2 separate regions of the Homo sapiens genome follow, and region 2 is linked to region 1. Evidence: fine-mapped expression QTL. A gene starts in region 1. The other region holds a variant in brackets. All regions are shown on one strand. Distances are from middle to middle.

Evidence for each region. PIP is the estimated chance that this variant, and not a neighbour inherited with it, causes the effect.
Region 2: its variant is fine-mapped to the expression of RPH3A in whole blood (TOPMed, PIP above 0.99).

The regions. Positions count from the first base shown.
Region 1 is chr12:112,788,543-112,793,920 of GRCh38, forward strand. It overlaps RPH3A (rabphilin 3A), which reads left to right and starts at 3,206. Exons shown (of 22, transcript NM_001143854.2): 1 at 3,206-3,470; 2 at 3,601-3,721. RefSeq lists an enhancer at 3,298-3,839.
Region 2 is chr12:112,885,207-112,890,584 of GRCh38, forward strand. It overlaps RPH3A (rabphilin 3A), which reads left to right. Exons shown (of 22, transcript NM_001143854.2): 17 at 2,591-2,717; 18 at 4,818-4,874. Among named protein-coding and RNA genes, the nearest start is that of OAS1, 19 kb to the right of the region's middle. The variant T/C (reference allele first, on the strand shown) is at 2,449.

The sequences.
Region 1 (5,378 bases):
TTGTCTGCAAATGGGGCAGTAATAGCACCCACTTCAGGTAGCTGTGAAGTGTGGGGATAATCACTGTAAAGTGCTTAGTACAATGCGTGACACATGGCAAGTGTCTAGGTATGCAGCAGGTGGTAGCTATTGTCATTCCCTAAGGGAGAGCTGAATTCATGAGAGGCCCTCCCAGAATACATGCCTAATGGCTGGGGAAGCTGTGAGAAATTCTTTGGGATTGGAAGCCAAGAGGCCTGGGAACTACTTGGGTTCTGATTCCACCACCAGCATCCTAAATGACTTTCATTTCTCCCTGGGCTTCTTGAATCACTCTTCAAATGTTTATTGAGGCAGCCAGGTGTGGTGGCTCACACCTGTAATCCCAGCACTTTGGGAGGTCGACGTGGGCAGGTCGCTTGAGGTCAGGAGTTCGAGACCAGCCTGACCAACATGGCGAAACCCCGTCTCTACTAAAAATACAAAAATTAGCCAGGCGTGGGGCGCATACCTGTAGTCCCAGCTATTTGCATGGTTGAGGCATGAGAACGTCTTGAATCCAGGAGGTGGAGGTTGCGGTTAGGCGAGATCTCACCACTGCACTCCAGCCTGTGTGACAGAGCAAGACTCTGTCTCAAATAAAACAAACGATATTGTTTATTGAGGGTTTCCTATGTGCCTGGGACTGCCCTAGGCAATAGACCACAGGTCCTGGCATCTGAAAGGCTTGCATTCTATACTCAACTCTGCTACTTCCTAGCTCTTTGATTATGGACAAGTCAATTCTCGTCTCTGGTCCCGAGTTTCTCCATCTGTAAATTGAGGACACTGAATTTATGTCACAGGATCATCCCAGAAAATATTCGATGAAAATTTTCCCCTCAAACTTGTAGAATGCATTTGAAATGAACTCTGAGAGACATCCTGGAGCATGTTCTTTGGAATCATACGACACTGAGTTTGAATGCTGTGTCTGTAACTTACTGTGAAGCCTTGAGCAAGGAATTTTATTTCTTGAGTCTAAGTTTTCTCATTTGCAAGATGGGAATAATACTAGTGTCCTGAAAGGGTCATGGTGAGGACTTCAGAAGATGATACATGTAAAGTTCCTAGCAGAAGAGCTGGCACATAGTAGGTTTTCAATAGCAGCCATCATTGCCACCACCACCACCACCACCATAATCATCACCATCAACATCATCAGCATAATCATTGTCAATCAACACCATCACTATAATCATCACTATGATTACCATCATGATGACAATTACTACCACCACCACCACCACCACCACTGAGGCAGGTGGTTCATTTGAGGCGAGGAGTTCAAGACCAGCTGGGGCAATATAGTGAGACCCATCTCTGCAAAAAAAAAAAAAAAAAAAAAATTAGCAGGGTATATTCGTGTGCACCTTGAGTCCTAGCTACTGGACAGGCTGGGGTGGGAGGATCACTTAAGCCCAGGAGTTCAAGGTTTCAGTGAGCTATGATTGCACCACTGCGCTCCAGCTTGGGTGACAGAGTGAGACACTGTCTTTTTCTTTTTTTTTTTGAGATGGAGTTTCACTCTCGTTGCCCAGGTTGGAGTGTAATGGTGCAACCTCGGCTCACTGCAGCCTCTGCCTTCCAGGTTCATGTGATTCTCCTGCCTCCACCTCCCGAGTAGCTGGGATTACAGGTGCACACCACCATGCCCAGCTATTTTTTTGTATTTTTAGTAGAGATGGGGTTTCACCATGTTGGCCAGGCTGATCTCGAACTCCTGACCTTAGGTAATCCACCTGCCTCGGCCTCCCAAAGTGCTGGGATTACAGGCATGAGCCACCGCGCCTGGCAGAGACACTGTCTTTAAAAAATTGTTTTTTAAATGAGCTCTAAATGTTCTCATTTTAACTCCTGGGTCTCATGGGGAGAAGTAAGTGACAAATGTAGTAGTTAACCCTGGGCCATCTGGATGGGAAGCTTTAGATATGAGTCTCCAATAGAGAGAGTTCTCCTTCACTTTGCAGAGAAGTTCTAAGCAGATCTTGGTCTGTTTGAGATTTCCTGGCCTTTTTCCAATTTGAGCCCTTTCCCAAAGTTAGGAGGAATAGGACTCTTGAGATATGGAGCACTGGGAGCCATGGGAATCCATTCATCTTTATATATTTCCCCTTTTGATACTTTTATTTCATTGTCCATATAGTGAATTCACTTCAGAAAGCCAGTCTGGATCTTTCGGGGAAGGCTCTTTGGCCAAGGCTCAATGGTCTGATTTAGACCTAAAATTTCCCTTCATTCTACTCAAACCACCTGCTGAAGGGTGAGGTTGGCACATGCCATCCTAGCTGGGCTGTCAATTCCTTTATCACTCTGTCCAAACATTTGTGTTTTAGGACAGGTTATGGACCATGAAATCATGGCAGTTCACAGCTTGGGTATTCTTATTGTTGCATTTTAACCTCTTGCTTCCTATCTTTAGGAAAAATAAGGTCATTATGTTATCATTTTCACAGATGGGACTTGGAAACATTAAATGACTTTTCCAGAGTTGTAAGGGGGCTGGATCTGACTTCCAGAAAACCATCAAGTGCTTATTCAACTAAGCCACCCTGCCCCTTAGAAATTTCCATTTCTTAAGCCTCAGCTTTTCTGCTCTGAATTCTGAGAAACTCCAGGTACAGGTCAAAAATCTGCAGCAATGGGGGTGAGGACAGGTCATCTGGGCGAAACTTTGAGGGGCAAAACCACTTAGGGAGCCCCCCACACCGGTGCCAAGCTCTTGTCTGAGCAGAGAGGAGCAATGCAGGACTGGGGGCGTGTGGGAGACAGGGGCTGTGAAGTTATAGTTCCTTTGCTCTGAGAGTGAGCGACAGTATTAGAAAAAGTGTGTGGTAGGTAAGCTGTCACTGACTAGACTGTGTGATGTCGAGAAGTCCCGTCCCCCACCCCTCCGGACTCCCCCCTTCTCTGCTTTAACCATCCAATTACTTAACTTCTCTGCCTAGGGGTTCGCTTCCCACCCATCCCCTCCTCCAAGGCATCTTAGCGCTGTCCGTGGTGCTGACCGCCAATCCCCTGGTTGCCGTTTCGACCAGCTGGGATCTCTGGTGCGCCCAACCTCCCCTCCCGGCCTCCCACCTTTCTTTCTCCAGGCACCGCACACATAAATCACGGGTGGGAGGCAGGCTTGGTTCCCGCTTGGTTCCCCCTGCACTGGGAAGCTGCCGCCCCGCTTCCCTTGCTCACACAGGGCTTTGCAGTAGTGGTGGCAGCCGCGGCAGAAACTGGCTCTGGGGAAGCAATTGATTCGTCTACTGCCAGCAGCCCGGAGTTGCCTACGCGGACTGGAAAGGAAGGGAGAAGGGAGAGAGAGAGAGAGAGAGAGAGAGAGAGAGAGAGAGACTCACAGAGCTAAAACCTTCATCCATGTGGAGGACAGTCTGAGGGAGCCACTGTCCCTTGTCCACTGACTCACTGGCTGGTCCGAGTTTTCTCCGCTTCTGGCAGTGGTATTTCTTTTTGTCTTGGTCCTGCATGATTTAGGGGTAGTTGATGTGTCTGTGTGTCTACGTGTGTGCACTGGTGCTTTGATTTTATTTTGGGAAGAGTAGGAGAGTCAAATGAACAATTTTCTTTCAGGCACCTCCGCTGAGCTTTTAAACCAAGTCATTGGGACTTAGCGTCTTTCTACCCGGCAGGGAAGGGAGGAGTTGGCAAGAATTTGGCTCACCCATTCCCCCTGCAAGCCTCCAGCGTCGCGGTAAGTGATATTCTCCCGGGTTGTGCAGATGGGCTAGGGGTGTTGGAATCCCAATTGTGATGTGTGTTCATGAGCTGGTGGGGTAAAGGGTAGTTGGGAGGAGAAGGGTATCGAGGAACGACTATGCTTATTTGCCTACATCCTGCAGTGTTTTATCACCTAAGCGGCATCCCAAAGCCAAATGAGATTTTGGCTTAGTGCCCAGGGAGGGGGTAAAATGTGCTCATGTTGTAGGCAATGCGATCAAGATTGTGGCTTCTGCCCAATTTGCCCTCTCCTTTGCAGCAGAAGCTGGTGAAAGTAGCCGGCAGTTCTCTGAGAGAGTTAACCCTTCGTGGGGCTGGCTAGTCTAGCATGGAGGGACTCTGGGTACTCTGACTTAGCAAGTGAGTGCTTATCCCTGGAGGGGAGGGGGTCACCTGAGACTGGAAGGGTAACTTTTGCCTGGGCACACTGGGTAAGATTTGCACAGGACAGAGCTTAGATTGTACCCTCTTCTAGGAACAGCTGAGTAATTTAATTGTGGTGATTTTTGCGAGGTTGGCTGTTCACGCTTTCCTGAGATGGAAGACCTGGGAGCCAGGAAAGGGCCACACTATGCCTGGGATGAGTGGTCAGGCTGGCCAGAAGGGAGCAGCCACTGCCTGCAGAGGAGATGATGTTTTATTTTCACAGGTGGCGTAACCTGTAAGTGATTGTATGGGGGAGCGTCCTGGCACTAGCTTGGGAGATTCTATCCTTGAGTTCATCTCAGAAGGAAGGAGGGGAACAAAGCTTGTTCAAATTCTGGGGAAAGATTCCAGGCTTCAGCTTCAGTTTTGTTCCAGGGTAGACCGTCCCCCTGCACTAGTTTCTTTTTCCAAGATCCTGATGGGGAAAGGCTGCACCAACCTGTTAGTGAGTGGGAAGTGGAAGTACCTTGAAATTGAATCCAAAAGCTCACATTTAATTTTGAAATGCTTTTGATGCTAATCTGCTACCCATCAAAAGGGGATTTCACTTTGCTTTCTGCTTTGATTACATCTACTTTTCTGGAAATGAATGCCCTTGTTTTTAGCATTTTTGCTATTATCTCAGGGGCCACCTCAGTGTTCTGCACCCCCAAGGATTTCCTTTTTAGATTCTTGCTCTTGGAGGTGGGAGGAATAAAACAACAGTCAGAGATTGGCAAGCCTGAAATATAAGCAGGGTTCACTCATTCTTTTTTTCTCTAGCCCCATAGCTAAGAAGAGATGCTGAAATCCCACAGCATGTGCCTGCTCAGGCAGGACATATGAGGCAGAAGAGGAGGGTTGTCTGGTGGTTAGTGTCAAAGATTTGGTTCTCAAAATCCCTAACTTCTCTTCCTAGCTTCTCTTGCTGGGTGACCTTGAGGAGGAAGTTGCCTTAGATTCCTCACTGGGAAGACTTGAGTGTGAATAATGAATGTGTGGAAATTTTGTTCAAAAAAAGAACCACATATCTGGCTATGGGTGATATTTAAAGTATTGAAATTTGGTACTAATCGATCAGAATGGCTAGGGTCCTGGAATAGGGCATCTTAGGGGGCCCCTGCTGTACTGAGTGTTAATCTTTTAATTGCTGGATTATGGAGAGGTTTGGGGGGATCTTAGGGGGCTATCAAGAGAGCCACGAGGCCTCAGGGCAGCATCCCCAT
Region 2 (5,378 bases), 97 kb after region 1:
ATTTCTGTTGCATATATACCTAGAAGTGTAATGATTGAGCCATAAGATATGGGTACGTCCAGCTTTAATAGAAACTGCCAGTTTTCCATAGTGGCTGTGCCAGTGTGCACTCCTATCAGCCATGCATGGGAGTTCCAGTTGCTTCACAGCCTCATCAACACTTTTTCATTTTGGCCATTCTGGTAGGTGTGCACTGGTGTTGCGTTGTGGTTCCAAATTTCCCTGATGACTAAGTACAACACTTTCTCTAATGTACACTATTACATTTTGTGGTTATTTCATAATTTTCTTAAGCAGTTCCTCCATTGTACAGTATTTGTTATTTCTGCTTTTTTCATAGTTATAAACAATATTGTGACAAACATCTTTGTAGTTAAATATATTTCTAATTTTTTGAGGGTACATAGTAGGTGTATATATTAATATTCATGAGGTATATAGGATAATTTGATACAGGTATACAGTGTGTAATAATCGCATCATGAGTTTTTTAAATGGGTTAAAATAAATGTCTTTTTTAATCACCTCAAGCATTTATCCCTGTGTTATAAACAATCAAATTATACTCTTTTCACTATTTTTAAATGTACAATTAAATTATTATGGACTATAGTCACCCTGTTGTGCTATCAAATATTAGATCTCATTTATTCCTTCTAACTATTTTTTGGACCCATTGTAGTTAAATATTTTTGTACTTGCCTTATGATATATTTGAGGTAAATTCCTATAAGTGGTGCTACAGGGTCAAAAACAGTGATTATTCTCTTATGTCTTTGGAGATGCGTTGCCCTGAAGAAGGATGATATTGTTCACACCCCAACCAGCTCAGTAGAGACAAGTTTTTTCTCCAGTGTTAGACAGTGCAGGACTCAGCTATGAGGGTGTTTGGGCCCTCCAGGACTTTGAACATTTGTTCAACTAATGTTGGTGGCCAAGGAGTGCGGTACTTTTACAGTCCCTTCCTGTCCCCCAAGAATGCCTCCCATGCCTTGCAGGACAATAAGCCCTTTCCTCTCTTAGTGTTTGTCAGGATGAATTATCATGCCGTGACTGGTCCTTTTGGTCTCCTATGGCAGCAGTTCCCAATCTTTCTGGCACCAGGGAACAGTTTTGTGGAAGACAGTTTTTCCATGAACTGGGGTAGGGAGAAGGATGGTTACAGGATGAAACTGTTCCACCTTGGATCATCAGGCATTAGATTTTCATAAGGAGCGTGCAAACTAGATCCCTCACATGTGCAGTTCACAATAGGGTTTATGCTTCTGTAAGAATCTAATGCTGCCACTGATCTGACAGGAGGCGGAGCTGAAGTGGTAATGCTTGCTCACCTGCTGCTCACCTCCTCCTGTGCAGCCAGGTTCCTAACAGGCCACAGACTGGTACTGGTCCATGGCCTGAGGGTTGGAGACTCTTGTCCTAAGGGACATTTCTTATGACCTGCCTTTTTTGTGCCACTGTTACTCAATGCTGTGTAAGGTAGATAACAAAAGGCAATATATTACTATAGGATTCAGGGAGACCTGGATTCAAACCCTGGTTCTACCTCTTATTAGGGAAAAATTATTTAATCTTTCTGGGCCCCAGTATCTTCTCTAAATGGTAAATGCAGTTGTTTTGAAATAGGAAAAATTAAATGAGAAAAGTTCCTAGCCTGACTTTGCAAAAGAGGATGCTCAAATGGCCATAAAGTATATGAGAAGGGGCTCAACTGTTTTAATCATCAGGGAAATGTAAATTAAAACTAGTGACATACTATGACCCATCCAGAAAGGCTAAAATTAGAGACTGACATAATTGAAGTCAAAGAGAATAAAGAGTGACCAGAACCTTTATAAACTGCTGGTAGGGACATAATTGGTGGAACTGCCTTGGAAAACTGTTTTGAAGTTTCTACTGAAGCTAAACTTATGCCTAGTCCATGGCCAGCAACCCTACTCCTAGGAAAATACTCAATAGAAATATGTACATGTATATCCGAAAGACATGAACATAAATATTCCATAGCAGCGTTATTCATAATAACTCAAAACTAGAAACAACCTGTATCAACAGCAGAATTATTATGGTACATTTACACAGTGGAATACTATGCAGCAATAAAAAGGATAAGTTATACTGTGCATGGATGCATCTCACAGACATAATCTTGAGCAAGAGAAGCCAACATAAAAGAGTCTATATTATATGATTCCATTTATATGAAGGTCAAAAACCAGACAAATGACTTCATGTGGCCAGAGGCAAAAGAGTGGCTATCTTTGAGACAGGCAGTGACTAGAAAGGATCCTGAGGATCTTTCAGTCTCTGGAATGTTTTATATCTTGACCTGGGTGGGAATTACATGGGTATATACAAATGCAAGGGTTCATCAAGCTATAAACTAAATTTATGTGCTTTACTGCATGTCAGTTATACTGCAATAAAGAAGAAGTTAAAGGTACTTGG[T/C]CCAGTGATAAATAAACAGGAAATCATATTATTTCCACATACATTACACATTCCTTACCAGTATCAGCTGCAACTCTTGGCACACAGTGGTGTCTTAATATTTGTTCCTGTTTCTCTCTCTACCCCCTTGTGTTGGTGGCAGGATCTCCGTCTGTGATGAGGACAAATTTGGCCACAATGAATTTATTGGTGAGACCAGATTCTCCCTCAAGAAACTGAAGCCCAACCAGAGGAAGAATTTCAACATCTGCCTGGAGCGAGTGATTCCTGTGAGTGACTTTACCCTGAGGATCTGATGGGAGGAGGGGAGATTGGGGGAGCTGCCTTCCTCTGGGTCTGAATTGGGGGAAATAGATCCACGGGGTATTGGGTAGCAGAGGCACTGCAGCAGGTCTGCAGAGGAGAGTCAAGATTCCAGCTCACAACCTCAGGCTGCATTCTCTCTCTGCCTTTCACAAACCCTGTGTCAGCATCACTTCGAACATGAGTTCTTCTTGGCCAAACTGGATGGACAGCATGGCAGGGGCAGCATGGGCTTCCTGGGTTCAGAGCCAGCTCTGCCACTTGCTGCTCCATGGCCTTGGCCAAGGGGCTGAACCACTCCGAGCCTCGGTGTTCTTGTCTGTAATGTGGGTGTTATAACAGTACCTGCCTCTTGGGAGGGTTGTGTTTTAAAAAATAACATAATCAAAATAGAACTTAATGCATAGTAAGCACTCATAAATTAACAGTTGTTAGTGTAGGAAATATTGCTGCCTTACCCACCTGTCAGTCATGAAGTCAGAAAGCACCATGTAGATAAACAGCAGACAGCATAGCCTAGAGTTTAAGAGTATGGGCTCTGCAGCCAGACTCTCGGGTGTGAATCCTGGCTCTGCCACTTAGGGTATAACCTGAGGCAAATTATTTAATTTCTCTGGGCCTCAGATGTCTCATCTGTAAAATGGGATACTGTAGTACTAACCTCATAGGATCTTTTAAGGATTGAATGTGATAATACATATGAAGTATTAGAACTGTCATTGTTGTTGTCAGATGTGATTCTTGCTCTTTGAGAAAATAGCAAGGATCAAAGTGAGGTTCTGCAATGGGGTTGCACCTCAGAATTAACCGGGGGATTCTAAAACCAGAGCTTTACAAGCTAAGATTTGTGGGGGTCTCCCCTGGAGATTCTGTTTTAGTGGGGTAGGGTAGGACTCAACAATCTATATTTTTAGAGATAATTCAGGCTGCCTTGCCTTACGTATGGGCCAACTTGGGCCCAGAAAGGGTAGCAAGTCTCCAAGGTCTCTGGGCACTGGCCAGAGTCCAGCTCTCCTACAACACCAGCACCCCTGGTCTCTCTGGGCAGCCTGCCTGCTCTCCACAGGGAAGCTATGGGGTGCAGGAGCATCTTCCCACCAGATGGCCAGCCTGAGGATGGAATGTCTGCATGCCATGCCATAGTTTTATAGTTCAGGCAAAGGAACAAGACCAAACAAGGAAAATTTCAAGGAAGGATTTCCACTGAATTCCAGGCTCAGAATAAATCCTTAAAGACATCCCTAGGAATGAGGCCCTTCTTCTGGGCTTTTGCCTGGTGACAGCTGGGTCTTCAGGCTTCTCTTCCTTCTCCAACTCCGTGAGTCCAGTTGGCCAGGACAATGGCCAGGCCCTTGCCTGTGTCATCAGCCTTTGGGTCTTCCCATCTTGCTATGGTGAATGCAGCCAGCCCCAGAGACATGGAGGTGCAGGACACCCAGAGGGCTGCAGCAGCCGCAGAACACTACTGATCATCTTCTTTTGCTCTTTGCCATTAAACCTTAACCCTTGCACCACGAACTTCCCCCATTATGTCCCACTGAGGGCCCCTCCCCTCTGGACCTCAGGTTTCCTCCTCTCCAAAGTGGGGAGGTTGGATTTAACCAATGGTTTTCTAACTCTGTTTCCCAGAGCCTAGAGTTCAGCAAAAGGGCCCCAGGGGCCATGAAGGCAAAAGCACCTGGTGGGTCAGACCCCAAGACCCCTGAGCCACTTCAACCAGAGAAAATGAAATCTTGTCTGTTTGTGTGTGGAATGCTCTGACACTTATTGGCTGTGTGACCTTGGGTAAGGGGCTTAACTACTCGGACCCTCAGCATCCTCATTTGTAAAATTGGAATTGTAACAGAACCTATATCATAGGTTGTTACACATTCACATAGCTTGCCATATGGCTAAGTTTTATAAATTTTAGCTAAAAGGGAGAATGCAGGAGAGCCACAGTAGCTTAAGAACCCACTTTCATGGCTCTGGATGGTAATGGAAGTATGAGGGGTTTCTGGTCCTTCTTGCGCAGGAAGATGAGCTCCATAGACAATGTTATCTTTTATTTGTTTTCTTCTTTTAAGATGAAACGTGCTGGGACCACCGGGTCAGCCCGAGGCATGGCCCTTTATGAGGAAGAGGTGAGCACTGAGCAGGAATTGAAGCCACAGTCAGGGTCTGTACTGGGCTAGGCTAGCATCTTCCTCTTCTCTCCCTCCCTGGCCCCTTCCTCATCCATTCTCTTCCAACCACCCCCCTGTTGATTTGCCTTGAGAACAACCCTTTGCCCACAAGTGATGTCCTCTCCACACCTAAGCCTCTGAGGAGGGGGAAGCCCCTTTCTCTCATACCCAGGATGCCCACCAGGTTTTTGGCCTTGTTGTCAGAAGCTTTGTTGACAATTCTACTGACTAGGGCAATGGCACACTCCTTTCTTGGAGTAGATGCATTCTTTGAGCTGTGTGCATGGCAGAAACTGAACTAAGCCTTCATGCTGTCTGCCTGGGTCCCTCATATGACCCCAAGGACTGCCCTTTAAGAATACTGGTTGTGTTAAGGGAGTCTGAGATCAGAGGCAAGAATCTGTCTGGGGCCAGGGTCAAGGCTCAGTCCTGGGTTAGAGCCAAAGCCAATCAGTGACCCGG